7 linked regions of the Homo sapiens genome follow. The protein of the gene in region 1 interacts with the protein of each later gene in a pairwise test. Each region holds a gene or a part of one and is shown in the gene's direction. Other genes may lie near its edges.

What was found.
Region 2: the proteins of MEOX2 (region 1) and HGF interact in binary tests that used the Homo sapiens proteins (3 or more experiments, as listed by UniProt).
Region 3: the proteins of MEOX2 (region 1) and WFDC9 interact in binary tests that used the Homo sapiens proteins (3 or more experiments, as listed by UniProt).
Region 4: the proteins of MEOX2 (region 1) and GOLGA8F interact in binary tests that used the Homo sapiens proteins (3 or more experiments, as listed by UniProt).
Region 5: the proteins of MEOX2 (region 1) and ZNF329 interact in binary tests that used the Homo sapiens proteins (3 or more experiments, as listed by UniProt).
Region 6: the proteins of MEOX2 (region 1) and CCNC interact in binary tests that used the Homo sapiens proteins (3 or more experiments, as listed by UniProt).
Region 7: the proteins of MEOX2 (region 1) and CIAPIN1 interact in binary tests that used the Homo sapiens proteins (3 or more experiments, as listed by UniProt).

What each region holds. Positions count from the first base shown.
Region 1 is NC_000007.14:15,624,184-15,627,683, reverse strand, and holds part of MEOX2 (homeobox protein MOX-2), read left to right. Parts: intron 1-765; coding exon 766-938; intron 939-3,500. UniProt on the Homo sapiens protein: Mesodermal transcription factor that plays a key role in somitogenesis and somitogenesis and limb muscle differentiation. Required during limb development for normal appendicular muscle formation and for the normal regulation of myogenic genes.
Region 2 is NC_000007.14:81,728,548-81,732,047, reverse strand, and holds part of HGF (hepatocyte growth factor isoform 1 preproprotein), read left to right. Parts: intron 1-2,268; coding exon 2,269-2,443; intron 2,444-3,500. UniProt on the Homo sapiens protein: Potent mitogen for mature parenchymal hepatocyte cells, seems to be a hepatotrophic factor, and acts as a growth factor for a broad spectrum of tissues and cell types.
Region 3 is NC_000020.11:45,610,862-45,614,284, reverse strand, and holds part of WFDC9 (protein WFDC9 precursor), read left to right. Parts: intron 1-3,423.
Region 4 is NC_000015.10:28,377,451-28,381,463, forward strand, and holds the start of GOLGA8F (golgin subfamily A member 8F), read left to right. Parts: upstream 1-1,213; 5' UTR 1,214-1,311; coding exon 1,312-1,359; intron 1,360-3,056; coding exon 3,057-3,176; intron 3,177-3,761; coding exon 3,762-3,821; intron 3,822-4,004; coding exon 4,005-4,013.
Region 5 is NC_000019.10:58,144,290-58,147,789, reverse strand, and holds part of ZNF329 (zinc finger protein 329), read left to right. Parts: intron 1-3,500. UniProt on the Homo sapiens protein: May be involved in transcriptional regulation.
Region 6 is NC_000006.12:99,548,161-99,551,660, reverse strand, and holds part of CCNC (cyclin-C), read left to right. Parts: exon of another isoform or gene 1-632; coding exon 633-668; exon of another isoform or gene 669-1,068; coding exon of another isoform or gene 1,069-1,092; exon of another isoform or gene 1,093-1,351; coding exon 1,352-1,443; intron 1,444-2,085; coding exon 2,086-2,153; intron 2,154-2,261; coding exon of another isoform or gene 2,262-2,272; exon of another isoform or gene 2,273-2,349; intron 2,350-3,276; exon of another isoform or gene 3,277-3,364; intron 3,365-3,500. UniProt on the Homo sapiens protein: Component of the Mediator complex, a coactivator involved in regulated gene transcription of nearly all RNA polymerase II-dependent genes.
Region 7 is NC_000016.10:57,437,386-57,440,885, reverse strand, and holds part of CIAPIN1 (anamorsin), read left to right. Parts: coding exon 1-114; intron 115-1,551; coding exon 1,552-1,704; intron 1,705-3,500. UniProt on the Homo sapiens protein: Component of the cytosolic iron-sulfur (Fe-S) protein assembly (CIA) machinery required for the maturation of extramitochondrial Fe-S proteins.

The sequences.
Region 1 (3,500 bases):
AATGGAATGATATACTCAAAATTGCTATTGGTATTTTACACTGCATTATAAGATTTGATGTTGTGGATCACTGATGTTACATGTTGTGCACCTTATGTTTATCTTATATATAATGAAAAACACATTTAAAAACTCTGTTCATAGTTTAAGTCATATGAACACAATTTCATTTATAGATTCCATGTTGGACTAAGTATAATATAAAATAAAAGAACATTGCTATTGCCCTCAAGAATTTTACTTAAATACAGATAAAAAAGCCAATAAGTACACACATACTTTTACATACGCTCAGTCTGAGCATAAAATTTTTTATGGTCCAGTTGCTAAACGTTTGAATTTCTCAAATACTCCTATATTGAGATGCCACTTTTTAAAGGATTACTATGTTCAATCTTACTTAGACCTCAAGTACGTATGTTCAACAACTTATGAAACAGAACTTCATATCTAAAAGTGTTTTCTAGAGAGGTTTTGGTTTATCTTAATATCATACTACAAGCAGTTAAAGGTTTTGTTAATATTTTATAAGAAGAAAATTACATGCTTTCCCAAATGGACTGTGAGTTACCTGAAGGAAGATGAAAAAAATAAGAATTATATCTCCCCCCGTTGAGCTGCCGTCAGTCTTGCTGTCTTTGGTCTCTATTTGTTCCATGTCTAGCGCAGTACCTGGAAAAGTAGTAATTCAATAACTGTGAATAATATGATTGCATGTGTTTGAATAAATGAGTTATTACCAATTCTGTCTCCCTTTTTTTTCAGACTCCCAGGAAGGAAATTACAAGTCAGAAGTCAACAGCAAACCCAGGAAAGAAAGGACAGCATTTACCAAAGAGCAAATCAGAGAACTTGAAGCAGAATTTGCCCATCATAATTATCTCACCAGACTGAGGCGATACGAGATAGCAGTGAATCTGGATCTCACTGAAAGACAGGTAAAGCTGGGCATTATCATTATATGATCTTTTTTAATTGCCCTGGGTCCACAGTCTTCTTTGCCATATTTGAAATACCTAGATCCAGAATTCTTGAATACCATTTGGAAGACAGTTATACTATTCCATGATAAAATTTTGCCAGCAAAATAACAAAATTAAAAATAATATAGTGATATTTGAAAGAAAACCATACTTATTGAGTTGAAGAAAGAATCCTCCTATGATTATTATCCTTCTGTATTTTTGGGTTTTAAAATATTATTTCTTTTACATAATGATGGCATACAGTGAGGAGTTGTGCATGCTTATATGTTAAAATCTCCTTATTTGGCATATTAGAAAGTTGGTAAACCCAGATTAGTTTTCTGTATTGCTCAGGATAGGTCATGATAAGTTGCAGTAACACATTCACCCTCAAATCTCAATGGCATAACATAAAAATGTTCATTACTTACTCACTCTCCATACAAACTCTACATGTCCAGCATTCCAGATAATCACTCACAGACCCATTCTGACTCTTTAGCATCTCAACATGTGGTGTCCATGGTAACTACAAGAAATAAGAAAGAATTGGAAGTTTATGCACTGACCTTTAAATGTTTTCACCTGGAAATTAGCCATGTCACTTCTATTTACACACTAATGTCTAGAATAGTCAAATGGTGCGGCTTAGGTGCAAGATGGCTGGGAAATGATGAAAGGCAAGGACACATAGATCATTGGTAAATATTTCTGCCCCTTTACCCAAAATATTTTTGAAATTGTATCGGTGTCAGTAATTCAAAATTCTGCTACCCACTCAGAGAATACTTTGAAATTATTAATGTTTTTGGACTCCAATTAATGAGACCTAAATAATATTTTTAAATTAATTGCTTTTTAGGTCCCTTTCTTGCATTTTTTTTGAATGACAAATGATTTGTTCTAACAGTGTTCCCAGTGAATTCCTTGTACAGATTCTTGTTTCCCTGAGGAGAATCTAGCCTACTGCCGGTTAACAGTTGCTAATCTTTACAAAAACATTCCTGAAAGGCAAATGCAAACATCTTTATGGACAGTGCAGTTATGATTGGCACTCTTAGGGCTAGAGTCTCATTTCCTCTTTCACTGTGTGTACCTCCTCCAGGATCCCATTGGAACCAAAGAAATATCAACAGGGTGTGGACAAATGAATGCATGTCTTAAGAGAGCAAGTTATTTTATCCAATTTCTTAAATGACCTGCTTTCCTTCTGTTAATTTTTACATTTCAGCTTTGGTAGGTTATTTATGGGTAGTAGAAATATACAGAGGAACACTTTTCTGTGGTTTTATTTATTGGCAGTTTGTATTTTATTACATATTATGACTAGTACCTATGTTATGGAGCACAGCATTTTCCTTCCCTTAGACTTCACATACAAAATTCCCTCTATGGGTTCAACATTTGGCATGCTGGAAAGCAGGATCCAAAGTCTACATCATCAGACCTCTATTTTATTATTTTTTTTAAACAGGGAACGGAAAATAAAAAGGTGTATGTGGAGGGAGAATTACACACTAATGTTCTTATATAGAGATGGTGAATTCTAGGAAATGCAACCGTGTTTTATATAGTAGATGAAGGAACTAGGAAACTAGGATTTGCTTCCAATCTGTAGAAATGACAGGATCCAGTACTGTGCTCTCAGCCAAGAGGAAAAACAAGATTCTGTACTTGACATTTTGGGGGTGGTCTACGGTTATCTGTCATTGTTTGACCACGGAGCAGAATCATTTATCTTTAGAAGCAGTTTTGTAAATCTGGTTTGAAAACGTTGAAGGTGTCTTGGATATTTCTTCTTTCTAACTGACTTCAGGAGCTTGGTAAAGAATTACATGCAAGAATTATATATACCTATACATACTATTTTAATGTTGTTTTAAAGATTCTTTTAACATTTTGTGTTAGTTACCCTTTGCTGTGTAACAAACCACTCCAAATCTTAATGGCTTCAAATAATAACCAAAGTTTTATTTGCTTTAGGTTTTGTAGGTTAGAGATTTTGACTGGGCTTAGTTGGACAGTAATACTGCTGGCCCTACATGGAACCCTCATGGAGCTCCAGTCAGCTGGTGGGCTGACTAAGAAAGAGATGGTTGGGCCTCAGCTGTGGTTTCATCTTCTTATAGGCTAGCTTGGGATCCTTCCAATGGTGATAGAAGCATTCCCAGGAGCACTGAGGGGGAAAACTCCGGTGAGCAAGGGCTTTTCAGGCCTCTTACGTCATATTTGCTAGTGTCCCATTGTCCAAAGCAAGCCATGTGACCAAACTCAGTGTCAGTGTAGGACAAGATCGCTTCATTGGAAGTCATTCCTGAAATAATCTAACCACAGCATCACAGGGGGGAAATTAACACAGAACATGAGAGATAGTTCAGTTTTCATTGAATTGAAAATTTGTTATTGTGCACAATATATTTTTATTCCATAAATCTCTACGTGCAGTTTTGCAAGTTAATGTGAAAAGATGTATACATGCAGAATTTAAATTCCTAATCAAAACTAAGGCTTTAGAGGGCCTCCCTGGGTTAGTCA
Region 2 (3,500 bases), about 66 Mb from region 1:
ATCAAAATAAATCACATACAATTAAGTAGGAAAGTAAAAGAGTTGAGGTACCTGAGGCAGACAATGAAGTCTATGAGATTAGTGGAAGTGTGTTTACACTGGCTGTTCTAACTCTGAACTCCCTTCCATTGTCAGGACTTAGTCCTGACTGAGGTCACAAGTTTGCTGCCCAAGAGCTTGTGCCCCCAAATTTTCTTTTAGCATGTTAAGCTAATGAACTGATAGATGCCCAAGGACATTTATTTTTGTCTCCTTTCCCATCAGTTTTATAACTAGATATGAAATATAGCAGTACAAACTTGACCTTGTACCTGTTTTAGAGTTATCACCTTTTAAGACTTTCCCCATACATTCAGTTTCCTCATATCATTTAACAGTTAATTCAAATAGTCAGAAATAGAGTAACTTAATGGCATTTATATTGATGAAATATAGTTCCTTAGGACCTATGAAATCCATCTTATTTTGTATTTCACCAAAGACCTTTGGATAGTATTGAAATTATAAAAGACTTGCATAATCAGCATCAACTTTTTCTATACAAGCCATTTCCCCAAGTCCAATAATTTTTGTTCTTCCTAAAATCAATATATATCATCAATATCAATATAGATGAATTCTCTAGGCTATCAGCTCTCAGTTACCACTTTATGGGTCAATTACTGAACATTTTTCATCTTCATTTGAGTTTCTTTTTAAGTTTGGATATTTCTGAGTCATATTTCTATTCTCTGAAGCAGATATACAAAACATTGAAACACTTTTTAAATGGGCTGCAATAAAGTTATTTAAAAGGAATTTACTGAAAATTTGCACAGTACAACTTATTTCAGTAATTAGGGTAGTCATTAAGGTAATGTTTTCCCTTTCTTCACAAAGCTTCGTAGAATAACTCTAAACATAAGCTATTGTTTAGTTTGCCTAGGTTAGCTCATAGAATGCAATGAAATAAAGCATTCAACTAACTACATAAGGTAGAAATGGTTTGTATGAGAGAGGTGTTTAGATGAAATTTAAAAGCTATTAAAAATATTTACACTATTAACTATAGAAAACTTTCATAGGCATCCCTAGTCACTGAAAGCATGTCTAATTCTGGCCTGTCCTTCGTACAGTGGTACATCCAATTCCAAAATGGATAAATCAATGAAATTTACTCAAATCTTAAACTGTCCTAGAGGCTGCCAACTTGAGTTTCATCCAGAGGCATCTTGAATGGCCATTTAGATTGTAAAGGTAGCTGGGAAGTTTACACTTTTATCAAACCATAAACATTTTCATGTATGTTTTAAGAAGATATATGAATTTTAGTTGCTCTGGAATGTTTTGAGTTACATTTTGATTGACTAAACATTACAGAGAGAGAGAGAGACCAAATTGTGGTAAAAATTTAATTTTATACTTTTATTACTTAGTGACTGAGGGTTTCAAATCTTCATGACGTATAGTAAGCATTGAAGTTGGACTAGGAAAAAAAGCAGGAGATAGATCTTCCTAGGAATAACTGATTTTTTCTTTATTGTCAACAAGATGACTAAAAATATATTTAACATGTTAGCTTAGAATTTATTTATTTATTTAATTTATTTTTTGAGACAGACTTTCACTCTTCTTGCCCAGGCTGGAGTGCAATGGCACGATCTTGGCTCACTGCAACCTCCACTTCCTGAGTTCAAGCCGTTTTCCTGGCTCAGCCTCCCAAGTAGCTGGGATTACAGGCACCTGCCACCACCACTCCTGGCTAATTTTTTTTGTATTTTTAGTAGAGATGGGGTTTCACCATGTTGGCCAGGCTGGTCTTAAACTCCTGACCTCAGGTGATCCACCCACCTCAGCTTCCCAAAGTGCTGGGATTACAGGCATAAGCCACCATACCTGGCCAGAATATATGTATTATATTGGAGGAAAATTATGGTTAATTTCATTACCACTTTGTATGTACTTATAAGCAAGCTGATTTTAGAAATAATTGTATAGTCATTTCAGAAACACTATATATTCAGCATATATAAGTTATACATGTGGAGGTAAAATGCATTTAAGTAACTTTTCAAGAAAAAACTAATTTAGGATTTGAATGAAAGGAAAATTGGAATGAAGTTAGTAATAATGTTAAGTTAAATTTCTTATTCCACTCAATTATTATAAAAGCTTATAAGTAACAGAAAAAAAAATCTGCTAATACAAATGCCAATGAACTCTAAGAGGCAAATGACATCTTCAAAGATTTTATATAAGTTTTTTTTTGTTGTTGTTTTTTGCCAATAGCTGACAATACTATGAATGACACTGATGTTCCTTTGGAAACAACTGAATGCATCCAAGGTCAAGGAGAAGGCTACAGGGGCACTGTCAATACCATTTGGAATGGAATTCCATGTCAGCGTTGGGATTCTCAGTATCCTCACGAGCATGACATGACTCCTGAAAATTTCAAGTGCAAGTGAGTAAAGTAGGCAAATGTTATACATTTCAGTAGGCCCTGGGGAAAATGAGGTAGAGTGGTTACTTTTTACTAATTTTGTGTTAGTGATCAAACTTCAGCGTGCCCAGTGATAATCAGGAGTTAAAAGGCAGATTACACCTCCACTCAGAGATTTTGATTCTCTTAATCTGGGATTTGGTCCTCAAATATGCATTTCATTAAGGACCCTAGGTGGTTCAGATCCAGAGGGTAGATTCACTATGCTTTGGGAAACACATCCCTAGGTGGATTTCTGATCACAGTTTTGCTCTTCTGGGTCTGTTTAGTAAATCAGTTAATAGTCATGGCAGCCAGGCATGTTTCAAAATACTGCCTTCTTAAATTTTCGTATTAGCTTTGGGAGGATTACACATTTTTCCTTTCGAAAGAATGGAAAGAAAAGGCCTACCACTGAAGAGTTATTAGCCTTAAAGATCTGTGAATAAAATAATTTTTCAAAGCTTAAATGAATGTGTTCAGTTGTTTCTGGATTTGCTTTGAAAAGTGGGGAAGCAAATCAATTGTGTAGATGACTCAAGCCAAAGAAACTGCCCTTGAGTATCAATTACATAGTTGTTTTGTGCATTCTCTATGGGTACTTTTCACACCATTTGACTTTTGCAGACAGGCACAGACACAATGCCATGTGTTTTTAAATTGTCCACCTTGTTATGAGGAACATAAAGTGATTGCTTTTGAAATTAATAACACACATCATTCATAGTGGCTTTTCTGAAATAGCACCTATAAATAACATATATTGGCTTTATGTAATTGGCTTTTAATAAGACAGCCTAACATTTCTGAATGAAGAGCTATGAGCACTAGTTGGCCCATCCGCCATAGGAGAGGGGAGATTTGTGTTGTATGTGTGTGTGTGCATGCACAAGCTTTAGCTAGTTCTGTAATTTATTTGTTTAAATAGTAAATATTAATCTAAGATTTTTTCCCATTAGTTTACAATAACAAAATTGACAGTTGTCATGCTGGGTTTATTTCCCTCATTTCCATCACAGCAATTCACTCTCTATTCGTG
Region 3 (3,423 bases), on another chromosome or scaffold:
GCACTCTGTATATGAGAAGTTGAGAAGTACCCAGCCTGGGCATAATGATGTTTCTTTTGTCTGGGATCATTTAGTACACTTGAGGGTGTGCAAAACAGGAGACTAGGCATCCTCAGATTCCTGAACACCTTTAAAGGGCAAGGGGAAAGAAAGAAAGAAAGAAAACTAGAGTAAGAATGAGGCCGTGTGAATGAACAGATTTCAAAGCTCTGGAAAACTTGGGTCTAGGGTGGTATTTTGGAATACAAAGAAACAGCCTCATGGAATCCAATGCTTTGGATTTATGGTGTTCCTGTCACTGTATATCAGTATTCCTCCTTCTTTATGCAAAGGGTTGGTACCAGGAATCCAGAGGCCTACTGCAATCTATGCCCACTTTCACCCACTTACCTCATCCCTCACATCCCTGGCTGTAAGCAGATAACAGAGTATCTTCATGGTTCACCTGTCTTGCCATGTGCTGGTATATTCACATAATCAGAAGAACACTCTGAGGTTCTCAAGGACTCAGGCTCAAGGAATGAGTATCTTGCCATTGCTAGCTAGCAAGAGCAGGAGATTAGGGAGAGAAACGAAAGGAGAAGAGAAGCCCTTAAATTGTAGATCAGATCAGATATTTGTGTGTGTGGGGGTTCTACTCTTAGATGCTTATTCCTGCTCTCCAAGCTTCTCCATTAAGAACCTGTGTCTCTGCCAGCTTACCTAAGCATGACTTGATGAAGTTGCCAAGCTAAGATGTTGCTGCTTTTGCCTCTGCTCGAATCTCTTAAAAGTGATTTGTCTAAAAGTCAATACATCTAATGACATGTGCCTAAAACTTGTATTTTTCACCTTCCAAATTTCACAGAAGCTAAGAGGAGAATACATTTTCAAAGTCTCCTCTGAAAAATTTGGCAGCTTTAAAATTTTTCTAGTATTACCTCTGCTTTTGAGCAGAGTCATTTTGGTGGATTCATCTAGAGCAGCATTGTTCAGTAGAACTTTCTGTGATGATGGAAAGGCTCCGCGCCTGAGAAATAAGGAATGTTAAATAGGACACACAAGAAGTCAAAGGTTGATGTAGACTATTCCCATCGTCCTATGTATAAATGGAATGAGAAGCATCAGAGAAAGACTTTGGGGACAATAGCCACTAACTACATGTGACCATTGAATACTTGAAATGACTGGAAACTGAATTTTGATTTAATTTAATGAGTTTGAACAGTCATAAGTGGCTAGTGGCTACCACATTGGACAGCACAAAGAAATCTCTTTTGCTTCATTGAAAATTTCTGAACAAATATAAAGACTTTCAGGCAGAGGGAAAATCACTGCCTTGTTCATGCAATGATGCAATTCATGTCAGAATTTTATCCTTTTCTTTGACTCTTATTTTCCTTCCTATTTGGTTCTAGAAAAGTAGAGCAATAGAGAATGAGGGGGGTAGATGGGAGAAGGCTGGGAAGTTTCCATTGTAATTAGGTTCCTCTTCCACTCTTCTATTATTTATAGTTCAAATTTTTCTCTTTTCTAATTATAGTGGCTTAAACACTTGAAAATAATGTTAAAAAGTAGTCTTAATAGTGCATATCTTTTTTTCCTATTTCTAATTTTAATGGGAGTACTTTCAGTTTTATAATGTGGAATGCTGGATTTTGGATTGCAATAGTTAAATTTTTACAGTGTTAAGAAAATGTCTATCTATTCCTTTTTATTAAGATTTTTCTGCTGTTCCCATACTCTAGTTTCCCTTACCCCTCAGCTGTCACTCAGCTGAAGGCTATTTTATTTTCTTCCATTTCCTTATTTTTCTCCTTACCACTGATTACCATCTATGCATTTCCTTATCTTGTTTAACTAGAATGCCAGCTGTATAAATGGGAGGATTTTTGTCTGTTTTGTTCACCACTATATTCCAATACCCAGAACTTGGAATATATTCCAATACCCAGAACTTGGAATATAGTTAGGCACTTAATAAGTACTTATTGAGTGAATGAACTCCCCCTGTCTCCCTCCACACACAGAGGCATAGAATCTAAACAGATTAAAATGCTAAGTGTAAAAAAAAAAGTAAAAAGAAAAAAATTGTAATTGAAAATAGTTTTCAAATATCCAGAGGAGGATATTCTGAGCTTAATGCTGACAGTTAACATTTATGAAGTATATACTATATTCCAGGTCCTATGCTTAGTGTTTCATACATATTATTTAATCTTCCCAGTGACCCTATGAGATGAGATGAGTATTGATATTTTTTTCTGTAATATGGATGGGGAAAACCAGGCTCTGGGGATTATGTGGCTGGCCCAGGCTCCACGGCTAGGAGTTGGTGGGGTTGGGATTCTAATTCAAGCCTATCTGACTCTGGGGCCCATGTTCTTTCCTCTTAAAATACCCATCAGCAAATAGTGTGGTGATGAAAATTACCTTTGTATAGCCTAGAGTAGAACAAGGGGTGGAGGGACATGCATTTGATATCCGGTAGGTGGAAATGTAACCTAACCCTTAGTGAGAGAAATGTGGCGGCAATTATCCAAAGCCTGGGAAAGACAATGTCTTTTGCCTAGAAATCTTTCTTCATTAACTCATGCTATAAAAATAACAATATATGTACCAAAGCTTTAACTATAAGGAGGTTCATCAGGACATTTTTATAACGAGAAGAAATTGAAACTATTCAGGTCTTGATGATATGAGGAAATGATAGTAATAAGTATGACTGAATTCTTGTCATGACTTGTATGATGTGAGCATATTTTTGCCTCCCCTGTATATTTCATTCAGAATTGTTAGTTTATTTCCTTGCTTCTTCAGGAAAATTTAGGTAGGTCTCCACAAATTTTATGTGATTCTCCAGTCATGAAACATCTTCTCAATATAATAAGTAAAATGTGCAGGCCCATGAAATTAGTCACAACTACATAAATTGTTCAGAACTATGGATTCCTCCCTCCCTCAGAAGCTCCAGTTATGGAACAGGATGTGGTGAATCTCTCTCCCCCGCCTCCCACCACCCCCACTCTGGCTCTTTGTAATTCTATTCCTCCACCCACTCTGGACTAAAGCAAGTTTCTGTCTCCTAGGGAGTAGAGGGAGGACGGACCAATAAGAGTAGTAGGAAAGTTCTTGTGTAATAGATACTATCATGAGCTGGTTCTGTGCTTCTGGTCTTGACTCTTTCGTGGGAGATTTCAAGGGTTCATTGGAAACATGAAATGTCGTCTGGCCATTTGCAGTTCAGATACTTCACAAATTAGAGCCCTCTTCTCTGCTACTACAGGCCGCTTTGGCCAGATTTAAAGTCACCCTTTAAAGTCTTCAGTCATGATTCAAGTCTACTGTGTTCCCATAGACTTCTAGGATCACATAGCAAGCTCAATGAGTCGTATTCATAAAACCTTTTCTCTCAACTTGGAATTAGGAGGCAGCATTCCGGCT
Region 4 (4,013 bases), on another chromosome or scaffold:
AGACTCAGTCTCAGAATAAAATGAAATAAGGAAATAAAAATGTAATTGTTGAAATAAGAAACTAGTGGATGGATTAGACACGAGAAGAAAGAATTAATTGTTTAGGCGATTCTCTCCAAAAAGTAAGTCAGCATGTCACACAGAGAGACATGAGGATGGATGATAGGGCAGAAGTTGGTGGGCTTGGAGGGGAGAGGAAGATCAGAATGAGGTCCAAAATGTGTCTTAGTGAAATCCCAGGAGGAGATATTAAAATTATATTAGAAAGTGAAAGAAATAGAAGTTTTATTTATTTATTTATTTATTTATTTTGAGAAGGAGTCTCGCTCTGTAGCCCAGGCTCGAGTGCAGTGGCACGATCTGAGCTCACTGCAAGCTCCACCTCCTGGGTTCACGCCATTCTCCTGCCTCAGCTTCCCAAGTAGCTGGGACTACAGGCACCCACCACCACGCCTGGCTAATTTTTTGTATTTTTAGTAGAGATGTGGTTTCACCTTTTTAGTCAGGATGGTCTCAATCTCCTGACCTCATGATCCGCCAGCCTCAGGCTCCTAAAGTGCTGGAATTATACGCATAAGCCACTGCACCCGGCCCAAAAGCTTTGTGTTTTTACAAATATTACACATGTTTCTTGTTTAAGAAAAAAAGTCTTCACAATAACGTAGGAGAATAAGAGAAACATTTTTCCAAAAAAGAGAAGTCATTGTGATTATTTTATCTTATTGGAATGTTGGATAATATAGTCTGCTTCAGTAATCATCAAGCATGCTATGGATTTTCCATCTTCATAGGATCTGTATCTCGGTTAAGGTAATACTGGTAATTTTTGTACTCTATGAAAAATATAGGCCAAAATCATAGACCTTGCATAGAAGCTGGATCATGAAGACAGCTCTGGAGGAACACACAGGTACACACACACAGACACACATATATATAAAGTATACACATATATATTTTTTAAAAGCTTTTAAAGCAAAAGCCGGCCCTGCCCCTCTCCCAGAGTTGGCGGCCTCTCCCCTCTCTTAGAGTGGGTGGGGACAGTGGTTGCATGGGCAGCTTTCCTTGTGAGCCAAAGGTCCCTCTGGACACATGATGCCTGGCCACGCCCCCTTTCCCTTTCATCTTTCTCATTAACCAATGGGCTTGGAGCATTAAGGCCACGCCCCTATTCTGCCTTCTACTGCATCCCTGGTTACGCCTCCTCTGGCTCAGTCGCACAGCTACCTGGTAGGTGACTGGAGGTGTTGATCAGTGCTTGGTGGGATTTTGCTGATGTGGCCCCAAGCCCGCCTCCCTCCCCACCCTGCGATGGCAGAAGAAACTCGACAAAGTAAATTGGCAGCAGCCAAGAGAAAGGTAAAAACACACCAGGTCACGGACCCCCAACCCAGCCATAGATCCTCTCCAACGACAAGACTGCTGCCAGAGTCCATACCACTCCCGAGGTTCACCGGACTGGGACCCCCACACCGGTGCCTCTGGGCTACCCCCACCAAAGTTTTGTCAGTCAGCCCCACCCCTTCAGCAAGCAGCCCAGTCTCTGCCCTCACCAATCACCCCAGGGTGACTTTGGGCAGGTGAATCCTGGGGCTCCCCGCTCCTTTACTGGGCCCTCATCTCCTGCCACCCCAAGCTTGACCTCCCAGGGCTTTTTGGGCTCACATCTCCAAGGACCTGGGTCCCACAGCCCCAGACCCCACCCTCACCAGTCATCCCTGGGTGACTTTAGGCTGGTGAATCCTGGGGCTCCCTGCTGCTGACTCTTCCCTTCCCTCCTGCTGCCTCAAGGTGGACCTCCCTAGGCTGTGTGCACTGGTGTCTCCAAGGACCTGGGTCCCAGCTCTGTTTTTCCCTCCCCTATCATGGAGCGGTGACTCGGACATCATGCTGATGTGGTCCCTCCCCCTCACCAGGAAGAGTGGAATGTAGTGATGTCACGGTCCATCCAGTAACTGTCATTACTGCAAGACTGGCCTTTGATCTTATGACCCAGTCCCCTAAGCATTGCCACCCCATTTCTGGTTCCTCTTGTCACAGCACAAATTTCCAGCTGGAAGGGGAATGGAGATTGGGACCTAGGAGCAAGAGGTTTCAGGCTGCCTCACTCCCTTAGCATAAACATTGACAGCGGGAAAAGCCTACACTTCCCCTGTGAGCTCAAAACATTGACAGTACCTCTGGATGGCAACTGGAGAATGGGTTTGACTTGGTTTGGTTTTCTCCCAGGCTTCTACTTTCCAGAGAGATTTTAACAAATTTTTTGTGAGTTCTCCACCTCACATTCTAATTCTCCATGGTTCTGGGACCAGACTGCCCTTCAGCCAGTGGTCTGTGAAGTGAGATTTGCTCATCTTCTCTGGAATAGATCTTGGGAAACTGAACTTGACAGCTTGAATCTTCCTCATATTATGTAAACCTGGGGTACTTTGAGTGCCACAGGATACATATGGGACATCTTTCTGAAGCATCAGTTTCCATTGATTCTCTTGAGATCAAGAGAAAAAACATTAATGTACTTAGGGATGACAGTCACATAGGTTTCTAAGAGTATACCAGACTTCTCTCTGAAATGAGGCTTGGGTTGTCCTCTTTCTGATAAATTCCCAGATTTAACAGAAAGGCTGCCTTCTGCCATGAGGACACATTGATATAAGAGTTTGAGAGGTACTGGTGCACTTCTTCACACTAACAGACGTGTGAGGATGTATGACTAAACCACATGGCATACAGTTCCTGCCTACTTAATGTTTACTTTTCTACCTCTGCCTCTGGTTTTGGTCCCTGGCAGCTGCTGATTCTTGGTAAAACCCCAGAGTTTGGAGTCAGAAGACTGAGTTTCAAAGTTCGTCTGTCGCCTTTTTCTTTTCTTCTTTTTTTTTCTAGCCATGATATCAATCTCTTTGAGTCACTAAATGATTGTGACAACACCTTGTACAGTTGTTGGTATCATTAAATCAGATGGTGTATAAGAGTATTTTATAAAAACTGTAAAGGAGGATGTGGCTGCAGGGGCTGATAGTTCTCATGAGTATTACTGCTCTTGTTTCTGACAGTTAAAAGAATATTGGCAGAGAAACAGCCCTGGTGTTCCAGCAGGAGCCAAGAGGAACAGGAAAACAAATGGCAGCATCCATGAGACAGCCACTTCTGGTGGTTGCCACTCACCTGGAGATGTGAGTCTTGGCTGACTAGGTTCCTGGGGACAGGGGACCCAAGGGGCACTAGAGGGTAATTGTTAAGATTGTGGATGGACTGTTGGGTACCTGTGAAGAATTCTGGGTTTGAATCCTGCCTCTTTGTCTGCTAGGGATATGAATTAGGGCAAGTTGCTAGACCTCATCGGGCCTCTCTTTTCACATCTGTATAATAGAGGTGGTATTGTTTCACTTCCATTTGTGAAGTTTAAATGAGATTTGTTATTGTTGTTTTTATGTTAATCCCTAGTACATGGCCTGCTGTAAACACCCAGAACACCCAGGATATGGTCATTGCTGTTCGATTTTCCTCATCCCCAGTCTCAAGGGGAAGCCAGGACAATGAGAACAGTCACTTGGCACAGGAGTCACTGAAAGGGCCACAGGGTGCTGTGGTGGGGAGATAAGAACCATGAGAGAAGTTGGCACAAAGGAGTTATGGGACAAAGGGTCCAAGATAGGCAGAAAAGAAAATTGTGCCAGTTGATGGGGAAGAAAAGAAGTCAGAGGGCTTAGATACTGAGTGGGACAGAACATCTTCATGTGCACTCTCATCTCTTGTAGTCAGCAACAGGTATCCACGGGGAGAGCCCTACATCATCTGCTACCCTGAAGGATCTGGAGGTAAGAGGCTCTGGGCAGAGGTGCAGTGACCCTGCAGGCCAGCCCTCCAACCTCCTCCTCCAGGTGGGACGGGGTGCCCCTCTGCCAGCTGAGACAGTCCACACACACCCCAGCCCTAATGATTGCTCTCTCTACCTCTCCCCCCACTCCTCCTCCACCTCCTCCTCTCTGCATGCGCCTCAGAGCCCGTGC
Region 5 (3,500 bases), on another chromosome or scaffold:
GTGGGGGGGCTGACCCCCCCCACCTCCCTCCCGGACGGGGCGGCTGGCCGGGCAGAGGGTCTCCTCACTTCCCAGTGGGGCAGCCGGGCAGAGGCGCCCCTCATCTCCCAGACAGGGCGGCTGGCCGGGCGGGGGGCTGGCCCCCCACCTCCCTCCTGGACGGGGCGTCTGGCCAGGCGGAGGGCTGACCCCCCCACCTCCCTCCCGGACGGGGCGGCTGGCCGGGCGGGGGGCTGACCCCCCCACCTCCCTCCCGGGCGGGGCGGCTGGCCGGGCAGAGGGGCTCCTCACTTCCCAGTAGGGGCGGCTGGGCAGAGGCGCCCCTCACCTCCCGGACGGGGCGGCTGGCCGGGCGGGGGGCTGGCCCCCCACCTCCCTCCTGGACGGGGTGGCTGCCAGGCGGAGACGCTCCTCACTTCCCAGACGGGGTGGCTGCCGGGCGGAGGGGCTCCTCACTTCTCAGACGGGGCGGCTGCCTGGCGGAGGGGCTCCTCACTTCTCAGACGGGGCGGTTGCCAGGCGGAGGGTCTCCTCACTTCTCAGACGGGGCGGCTGGGCAGAGACGCTCCTCACCTCCCAGACGGGGTCGCGGCCGGGCAGAGGCGCTCCTCACATCCCAGATGGGGCGGCGGGGCAGAGGCGCTCCCCACATCTCAGACGATGGGCGGCCGGGCAGAGACGCTCCTCACTTCCTAGATGGGATGGCGGCCGGGCAGAGACGCTCCTCACTTTCCAGACTGGGCAGCCAGGCAGAGGGGCTCCTCACGTCCCAGATGATGGGCGGCCAGGCAGAGATGCTCCTCACTTCCCAGACAGGGTGGCGGCCGGGCAGAGGCTGCACTCTCGGCACTTTGGGAGGCCAAGGCAGGTGGCTGGGAGGTGGAGGTTGTAGCAAGCCAAGATCACGCCACTGCACTCCAGCCTGGGCACCATTGAGCACTGAGTGAACCAGACTCCGTCTGCAATCCCGGCACCTCGGGAGGCCGAGGCTGGCGGATCACTCGTGGTTAGGAGCTGGAGACCAGCCTGGCCAACACAGCGAAACCCCGTCTCCACCAAAAAAATACGAAAACCAGTCAGGCGTGGCGGCGCGTGCCTGCAATTGCAGGCACTCGGCAGGCTGAGGCGGGAGAATCAGGCAGGGAGGTTGCAGTGAGCCGAGATGGCAGCAGTACCGTCCAGCTTCGGCTCGGCATCAGAGGGAGACCGTGGAAAGAGAGGGAGAGGGAGACCGTGGGGAGAGGGAGAGGGGGAGGGGGAGAGGGAGAGGGACTACCTTCCTCTCTTGACCAGGTACCACCTACTTTTTTTTTTTAAAGATGGAATCTTACTCCGTCACCCAGGGTAGAGTGCAGTGGAGCGATCTCGGCTCACTGCAACCTCTACTTCCCAGGCTCAAGTGGTTTTCCTGCCTCAGCCTCCCAAGTAGCTGGAATTACAGGTGTGTGCCACTATGCCCAGCTAATATTTGTATTTTTAGTAGAGACGGGGTTCCGCCATGTTGGCCAGGCTGGTCTTGAACTCCTGACTTCAAGTGATCTGCCCACCTTGGCCTCCTACAGTGCTGGGATTACAGGTGTGAGCCACTGCGCCTGGCCCCAGATACTTTATTATTGATACAGAATTCCTGTCTGATATAGTTTGTATGCAGCTGATACAGTTTGTATGGTTTTTGGGTATTTGTTTTGATCCAGGATCCAATCCAGGATCCTGTGTTACATTGACTTGTCATGTTATTTTAGTCTTCCTCAACCTTGAATGGCACTCTCCTTTCTTTTTTTTTTTTTTTCATGAAATTGATATATTTTTAAAAGACCCAGCTGGTGGTTGTGTAGATTGTCACTTGATGTTCAGTTGACATTCCCAATATTAAATTCAGACTCTCGTCTTTGGCAGGGCATTGTCTAAGTGACATCATGTTCTTCTTGGTGTGTCGTGTCAGGAAGCATGTGAGGCTGGTGGTGATCAGGTTTTTGTCATGTGGTTAAAGTGCTCTCTGCCAGGATCCTCCGCTTTTTCCCCTCTGTAATTGATAAGCCATTCTAGAGATGGTACTTTGAATGTTCTTTTAATCTTATGTTCATGGTGTATTACTCATTTTGATATAGTAAGATGTTTCAAATCTTTTTCTTTATGTTTTGTGCCTTTTGTGAGTTGAGAAATTCTTTGGCTTGGCGCAGTGGCTCGCGCCTATAATCCCAGCACCTTGGGAAGCTGAGGCGGGTAGATCACTTGAGGTCAGGAGTTCAACACCAGCCTGGCCGACATGGTGAAACCCCATCTCTACTAAAAATATAAAAATTAGCTGGGTATGGTGGTGGGCACATGTAATCCAAGCTACTCAGGCAGCTGAGGCAGGAGAATCACTTAAACCCAGGAGGCGGAGGTTGCAGTGAGCTGAGATCATGCCACTACACTCCAGCCTGGGTGACAGAGTGAGGCACTGTCTCCAAAAAAAAAAAAAAAAAAAAAAAAGGAAGAAAAAAGAAATTTTTTTTGGCTTGATGTAGTGGTGGCTCACGCCTTAATCCCAGCACTTTGGGAATCTGAGGCTGGAGGATCACTTGAGCTCAGGAGTTTGAAACCAGCCTGGGCAACACAGTGAGACCCAATCTCTACAAAACATTTAAAAAAAAAAAATGGCCAGGCGCGGTGGCTCACGCCTGTAATTCCAGCACTTTGGGAGGCCGAGGCGGGCGGGTCACGAGGTCAGGAGATCGAGACCATCTTGGCTAACATGGTGAAACCCCGTCTGTACTAAAAATACAAAAAATTAGCCAGGCATGGTGGCAGGCACCTGAAGTCCCAGCTACTCGGGAGGCTGAGGCAGGAGAATGGCGTGAACCCGGGAGGCAGAGCTTGCAGTGAGCAGAGATCGCACCACTGCACTCCAGCCTGGGTGACAGATCAAAACTCTGTATCAAAAAAAAAAAAAAAAAGAAAAAAAATTATCCAGGTGTGATGGCATACTCCTATGGTCATGGCTCCTGAGCCCAGGCATTCAAGATTACAGTGAGCCATGATCATACTACTGCATTCAAGCCTGAGCATCAAAGCAAGACTCTGTCTCTTTAAAAAAAAAAAAAAAAAAAAAAATTCTTGGCTGGGCGCCATGGCTCATGCCTGTAATCCTAGCATTTTGGGAGGTCGAGGCAGGCAGATCACCTGAGGTCAGGAGTTCAAGATCAGCCTGGCCGACTTGGTGAAACCCCATCTCTATTAAAAATATAAACAATTAGCCGAGTGTGGTGACGCGTGCCTGTAATCCCAACTACTCGGGAGGCTGAGGCACGAGAGTCACTTGAACCCAGGAAGCGGAGGTTGCAGTGAGCCGAGATCGCGCCACTGCACTCCAGCCCAGCTACAGAGCGAGACTCCGTCTCAAAAAAAAAATATATATATATATATAGATAGATAGATAGATAGATAGATAGATATAGATGTAAAATTAGCTGCGTGTGGTGGCAGGTACCTGTAGTCCTGGCTACTCAGGAGGCTGA
Region 6 (3,500 bases), on another chromosome or scaffold:
GGCGATTATCAACCCTGGCTGCTCATTAAATCACCTTGGGAACTTGTAAATAATACTGATGTTGGATCCTTTCCAGAACAACAAAATCAGAATTTTCAGCCTTGGGGCTCCCAACATTGGTACTGTGTAAAAGGTCCCAGGTGATACTACTATTTAGCTGGGATTAAAAACTAATGGAACAATATGAAATATAAGGTGAATTTCTATTGACATTTTAATAGGTATGTCCTTTTTCCACCTTGCAAGGGATTTGTTTATTCTCTTTAAGTTACATTTTTTAAATTAAGTAGAAATAATTGTATTTTTGCATTTGCTGAGTAGAAAGTATACTGGAAAATCTGATGGTTTTACAGGATATTTTAAATAAAAGTGAGTAATAAGAATGATTGTGAGAAGCTGGCTTTTCCTTACAAGGATTAAAATCCTTATAATCATAATTGCATTTCTAATAGTAATTTTTTATTGCAGATATTTATTTTAATATAAACTATGTTTATTGTCTGGATTTTTAAAACTTTTTAGTAAAAATTTTTGATAAATTACTATAATGTCTGTAATTTATGTTAGATTAAGTGGACTTATCTAATTTGGTTTCATATTGACATTTCATTGATAATCTTTGTTTTAAACAGATATTAGAATGTGAATTCTATCTGTTAGAACTAATGGTAAGTAAATCTTCTGTGATTAATAGATTAAAACATTTTTAAATTAAATGAAGTTGGAAATTATTTAAAGAAATGATTTTAGAGAGGTACATTTTAAAACCATCCACCTAATATGTGATGGTGAAATCATGGTAGCCTATTTATATTAGCACCTAGAGTCTCTCTGAAGCCTGTAAAATAATTTGTATATCCTACTTAGGATGGGAAAATTTTTCTGTTCTATAGTAAGTAACTATAATGAAAGGATTACAAACAGACAAGTCAGGACATTAAACCACCATAAATTATGTGCACAATTTGTGTGTGCGTGCAGTGTTATTTAAAGATAGATTATGTCTTTGGCAGAATTCTGCTCCTCCAGTTGGGAATTATGAATTTATAGGCTAATAAGAGGTTTCAGTGTGTTGCAGATGTGACACTTTGAGTCTCTAAGGGAATGAATGGATGCTGACTGACTGCCAACCGATTTATCAAGGTATATTCCAGAGAGAGCACTGCCTTCACTATTACGGTAGAGTTTAGGGCTGTCATACTGCTAGCTTAAGAGAATAAAAGGGAAGCAAGCATGAGTTAGTGAAATTCACTTTGAAATACACAATTACAAATCAGTTGGGTAATGATAACATTTTTGTGTTGTAATAAATCTGTTTTTTATACATACACATTTTTTAAACTGTTTCTAGGATTGTTGCTTGATAGTGTATCATCCTTATAGACCTTTGCTCCAGTATGTGCAGGACATGGGCCAAGAAGACATGTTGCTTCCCCTTGCATGGTAATTAGAACAGAAGTTATTAATAGTGTAACATGTTATTAGATAGGAAGGTTGACAATTAAATATGAAGTTAAGTATTTTTAAAGTCATTAAACTATTGCCCCAAGATATTTTATGTTGAGCAAAATACCACTTGTTGAATTTTAATAACTATAGTGGTGTAAATGCCAAAATGAAAACAATCCTAAATTATCTGTTCCATAAATATACCTATTAAAATTTAATTTTATACAAAACACAGACTGTTAACATAAAAATTAAGACTGAAGTTATCTTTAAAGTAATCAGAATACTTTTTGGTAGTCTGCAACATACATATAAATTTACTGTATAATTTCTGGTTTTTTAATTTGATTTTTCTGATTTTTAAAAAATTAGAAAAATGTGTTTATAATTTGTTATGAGATTTTGAAATTTAAAATATATTTAGCTGTAATTTTATTCATTGATATGTGCTTATTTGTTGTCACATTCATGTATCCATCCTTTTGCCTTGATGTTTTCACTTTTATAGCTGTGCTTCAGTAGTATAAAAGGAAATAAATGTGTGCAAAGATGGGAAATCTGGCCCTCTCTGGAGGAAATATACAATCAGATGAGGTAGTTCTGCTTTCAGTAATAATATGATTTACATTTCTATAGGAGGATAGTGAATGATACCTACAGAACGGATCTTTGCCTACTGTATCCTCCTTTCATGATAGCTTTAGGTATGTAAGCATGGTGTGCCTTTATGAGTTAAATTGTTATAAACTTATTTAGGTCATCCTAAACTAAATTTCACCCTATTGTACTTTATGTTTTTATGTTCCATGAAGTAATAGACTAATCCTTGCATGTGAGCTTTCAATAATATGAACTGCAACTGTCATAAATCAGGATTATTATTCCCCCACCCCCTTTTTGGTAAGTTTTTTTTTTTTTTTTTTGAAACCATTCAAAATAGTTTTAATCGGTGTCTGAATAGAACATATTTGTTTGTTTAGAGGGAAAAGTTCAGAATTAAGCCAGCTAATATTAGTTGTAGCATGTAAAATAATTGGGGCTTTCATATCCTGAGCCCAAACAAATACTCAGAGGTTGAGTAAAGGAGCATCTGTGGTCCATAATGCTTGGCTGGAGGAAGACGTTAAGTACATTCATTCTACAGTCTGTGGAAAGCAGTGCTGTAATGGGTGGAGTCAGATAGTCCTAGGCTTAAACTTTACCTCCTTTACAATTGTGGGAAAATTATCTGACCTTTCCGTGTTTGTTTCCTTAATTGTAAAATGGAGAGAATACTAATAATTCCACTGAGCCGTTTGAAGAATTAAATGAGATAGGTTGTAGAGCACCAAATAATGCCTGTTATATATTGGGCACTTGTTAATTTTTGTTCCTTTTCCTTCTATTGATTTTTTTTTTTTTTTTTTTTTGAGATGGAGTCTCACTCTGTCTCCCAGGCTGGAGTGCAGTGGTGTGATCTTGGCTCACTGCAACCTCTGCCTCCTGGGTTCAAGCGATTCTCCTGCCTACAGGAGGATTATAGGTGTCCACCACCATACCTGGCTAATTTTTGTATTTTTAGTAGAGACAGGGTTTCGCCATGTTGGCCAGGCTGGTCTTGAACTCCTGACCTCAGGTGATCCACCCTCCTTGGCCTCTCAGAGTGCTGGGATTACAGGCGTGAGCCACTGCACCCCAGCCCCTTCTATTGATTTTTATAACTCCATCCTCTTGATTTTCCCCTCTTATTTTCCATTGGTTTGTCTTTGTTCAGTTGTTCAATTATTCCTTAAATGTTGATGTTTCTTGGCCTTCTTACATCAGGGCTGACAAATAGGTTATACTTACACTTCTGTATTACTGGCAGTTCCCTGAAAGGACTGGATTTGAAAGGATTTTGAGTGGTGTCCTACCCAGTGGGTAGGAATACTGGGATCTGCATAGGTAGGAAGGAAGGGATAACAGAACATGTGTCACATCTTTGCCATCCCTGCTGTCTTCTTCTTGGGTACTTTAACTGAGATTCATGGCTTCTACTATCACTTACATGCCGAAACATTTAAATCTCTTTA
Region 7 (3,500 bases), on another chromosome or scaffold:
TCTGGGATAAGTCATCCCCAGTGGAGGCTCTGAAAGGTCTGGTGGATAAGCTTCAAGCGTTAACCGGCAATGAGGGCCGCGTGTCTGTGGAAAACATCAAGCAGCTGTTGCAATGTAAGTACCCACCCACGTTGTCTTTATGAGGCTGGAGGGGTTTCCATGGGAGTGTTGCATTTCTGTGGTTCCTTGATATCTGAGTTTTCATTTAGGGTGGCATGTGATAGTGGTGGCTGGTCACCCTGTTGTTTTTCAGTTGAGATATATCGGAGGAACCACCCCCAATAATTCAACGTAGGTTCTTTTCTATTTTCCCTAAGTGTCGGCTGGTCTGAGAAATAAAGGGAAAGAGTACAAAAGAGAGAAATTTTAAAGCTGGGTGTCCGGGGGAGACATCACATGTCGGCGGGTTCCGTGATGCCCCTCAAGCCGCAAAACCAGCAAGTTTTTATTAGTGATTTTCAAAGGGGAGGGAGTGTACGAATAGGGTGTGGGTCACAGAGATCACATGCTTCACAAGGCAATAAAATAAGGCAAACGGGGGCAGAGCGAGATCACAGGACTGGGGCGAAATTAAAATTGCTAATAAAGTTTCGGGCACGCATTGTCATAGATAACATCTTATCAGGAGACAGGGTTTGAAAGCAGACAGCTGGTCTGACTAAAATTTACTGGGTGGGAATTTCCTCGTCCTAACAGGCCTGGGAGTGCTACGGGAGACCAGGGCTTATTTCATCCCTTATCTGCAACCATATAAGACAGACATCCCAGAGTGGCCATTTTAGAGACCTCCCCCTAGGAACGCATTCTCTTTCTCAGGGCTGTTCCTTGCTGAGAAAAAGAATTCAGTGATATTTCTCCTATTCACTTTTGTAAGAAGAGAAATATGGCTCTGTTCCGCCTGGCTCTCAGGCAGTCAGACCTGATGGTTATCTCCCTTGTTCCCTGAACATCGCTGTTATCCTGTTCTTTTTTCAAGGTGCGCAGATGTCGTATTGTTTAAATGCACATGCTTTATGAACAATTTGTGCAGTTAACGCAATCATCACAGGGTTCTGAGGCAACATACATCCTCAGCTTATGAAGATGACGGGATTAAGAGATTAAAGTAAAGACAGGCATAGGAAATCACAAGAGTATTGACTGAGGAAGTGATAAATGTCCATGAAATCTTCACAATTTATATTCAGAGATTGCAGTAAAGACAGGCGTAAGAAATTATAAAAGTATTAATTTGGGGAACTAATAAATGTTCATGAAATCTTCACAATTTGTGTACTTTTGCCATGGCTTCAGCCGGTCCCTCCGTTTGGGGTCCCTCACTTCCTGCAGCAGAGCTTAGGAGTGTAGTTGATGATTTCCATAAGTATGTTCTTTCTTGGTAGCTATTCCATGTTTTTTTAAAACACTTACTATTCATCCAGCTTCTTGGATGGATATCGAGTGGTGTCCATTCTCTCAGGGTGAGGTCTGTAGCTTTTGTTGGGGGTTGGAAGGGACCAGGAGATTATCCCAGGCTCAGGAGATTGCTAATTAGAGTCCTCTTCTTTTCAGCTGCCCACAAAGAATCCAGCTTTGACATTATTTTGTCAGGTTTAGTCCCAGGAAGCACCACTCTGCACAGTGCTGAGATTTTGGCTGAAATCGCCCGGATCCTTCGGCCTGGTGGATGTCTTTTTCTGAAGGAGCCAGTAGAGACAGCTGTAGGTAAGGAGATCTTCACTTGGAAAACATGTTTGACAGGGTTGAGTCTTAGAGTATGTGTGCTGCATCTCCGTGAGCAGGAGGTATCATTGGGAGATCAGTATTCCTGTAGCAAAACCTTTTCCTTGGGGATAAATTATTGTTAAAATCTGAAGCAACATATCTGGAGAAATTGTAATCTTTGGCTGACTCATTATGTAATAAAATAGAAGGAAACTGCCATCTAAAAATGGGTCCTTTTGCAGGTGAATAAACTTTGATATGTTCATAATATGGAAAGTGATGCAGCAATAAAAATGAACTAGCTAACTATATGTACATCAGCTTGGATGGATATCAAGGGAAGTAGCTGAGTGAAAAAAGCCAATCTCAAAAGGCTCTGTACTGTACAAATCCATTCATATGCTCGAAATAACAAAATTGTGGCGGTGGAGATCAGAGTTTGCCAGAGGTTAGAAGTGGGAGGAAAGGGTTGGTGGAGCTATAAAGGGGTAGTATGAGGGTTCCTGTGGTGATAGAACAATTCTGTGTTCTGAATGTCGTGGTGGTTACACAAATCTACACATATAATAAAATTACATAGAACTATATAGCCCCCTTCTGCCAAACGAGTACATATAAAAGAAATGAAATCTGAAAAAGTTATGTGGACCATCAATATCAATTTCCCGGTCTTCATATCATGCTATAATTGGGTAAGATGTTAACTGTGGGGAGGGACGAAGTGAAGACCTCCTTAATATACAGAACTTTTTTTTGTTTTTTCCAACTTCCTGTGAATCTATAGTTATTTCAAAATTAAAAGTTTAAAAATAGTGGCCGAACCCTGGGAATGATGTGGTAATTATTGATTCATGTGAAACTAATGACAGTGTTCATGAAGTAAAAACTTTTTTGATCGGTGGTATAGCTGTCAGAGTGATTCAAGTCTGGATTTTTAATATTTTTCACTAGACTTTCAGTCAAAACATAACCATTTCATCAAATAGAATAATAGAAATGAAAGTATTTTGAAATGTATAAAGGTGTTCATTGTTTATTTGGAAATAGAACTTTGTGTTATGTGTAGTATAAATCAGCATTCTTTGCTGGGAATTTAAACCTTACATGACTAAATGTAGTGTCTTAGAACTATACAGAGATAAAAAAGGAACTATTCAGAAGGAATACTTGTGTTTCTGTGCACTTTGCAGTTCATAAGCCTCTTTTCATAGTCATTATCTCACAACCTCTGGAAGGGGTTTCAAGAAGCAGAGAGTGATAAAAAAACAATAATAATGGAATTATAACATTTAAGAGCTTAGGTAAAAACACTTCGAACAACAAAAAGGATTTGTCAAATTAAAATAGTATCGCTATGGCCAGGCACAGTGGCTCACACCTGTAATCCCGGCAGTTTGAGAGGCTGGGGCAGGCAGGTTGCTTGAGTCCAGGAGTTCGAGACCAGCCTGGGCAACATGGCGAAACCCCGTCTCTACAAAAAATACAAAAATTAGCCCAGTGTGGTAGTGCACACCTATAACCCCAGCTACTTGGTGGGGGCTGAGGCAGGAAGATTGCTTGAACCTGGGAGGTCGAGGCTGCAATGAGCTGAGATCATGCCACCGCACTCCAGCCTGGGTGACAAAGTGAGACCCTGTCTCAAAAATAATAATAATAATAATAATAATAAAATAATATCACTAAAATATATATACAATTGTCCTCATCTTACAATGGAGTTACATCCTGATAAATACTATTAAGATGAAAATGCATGTAATTCATCTAACCTACTAAACACAATTGCTTAGGTTAGC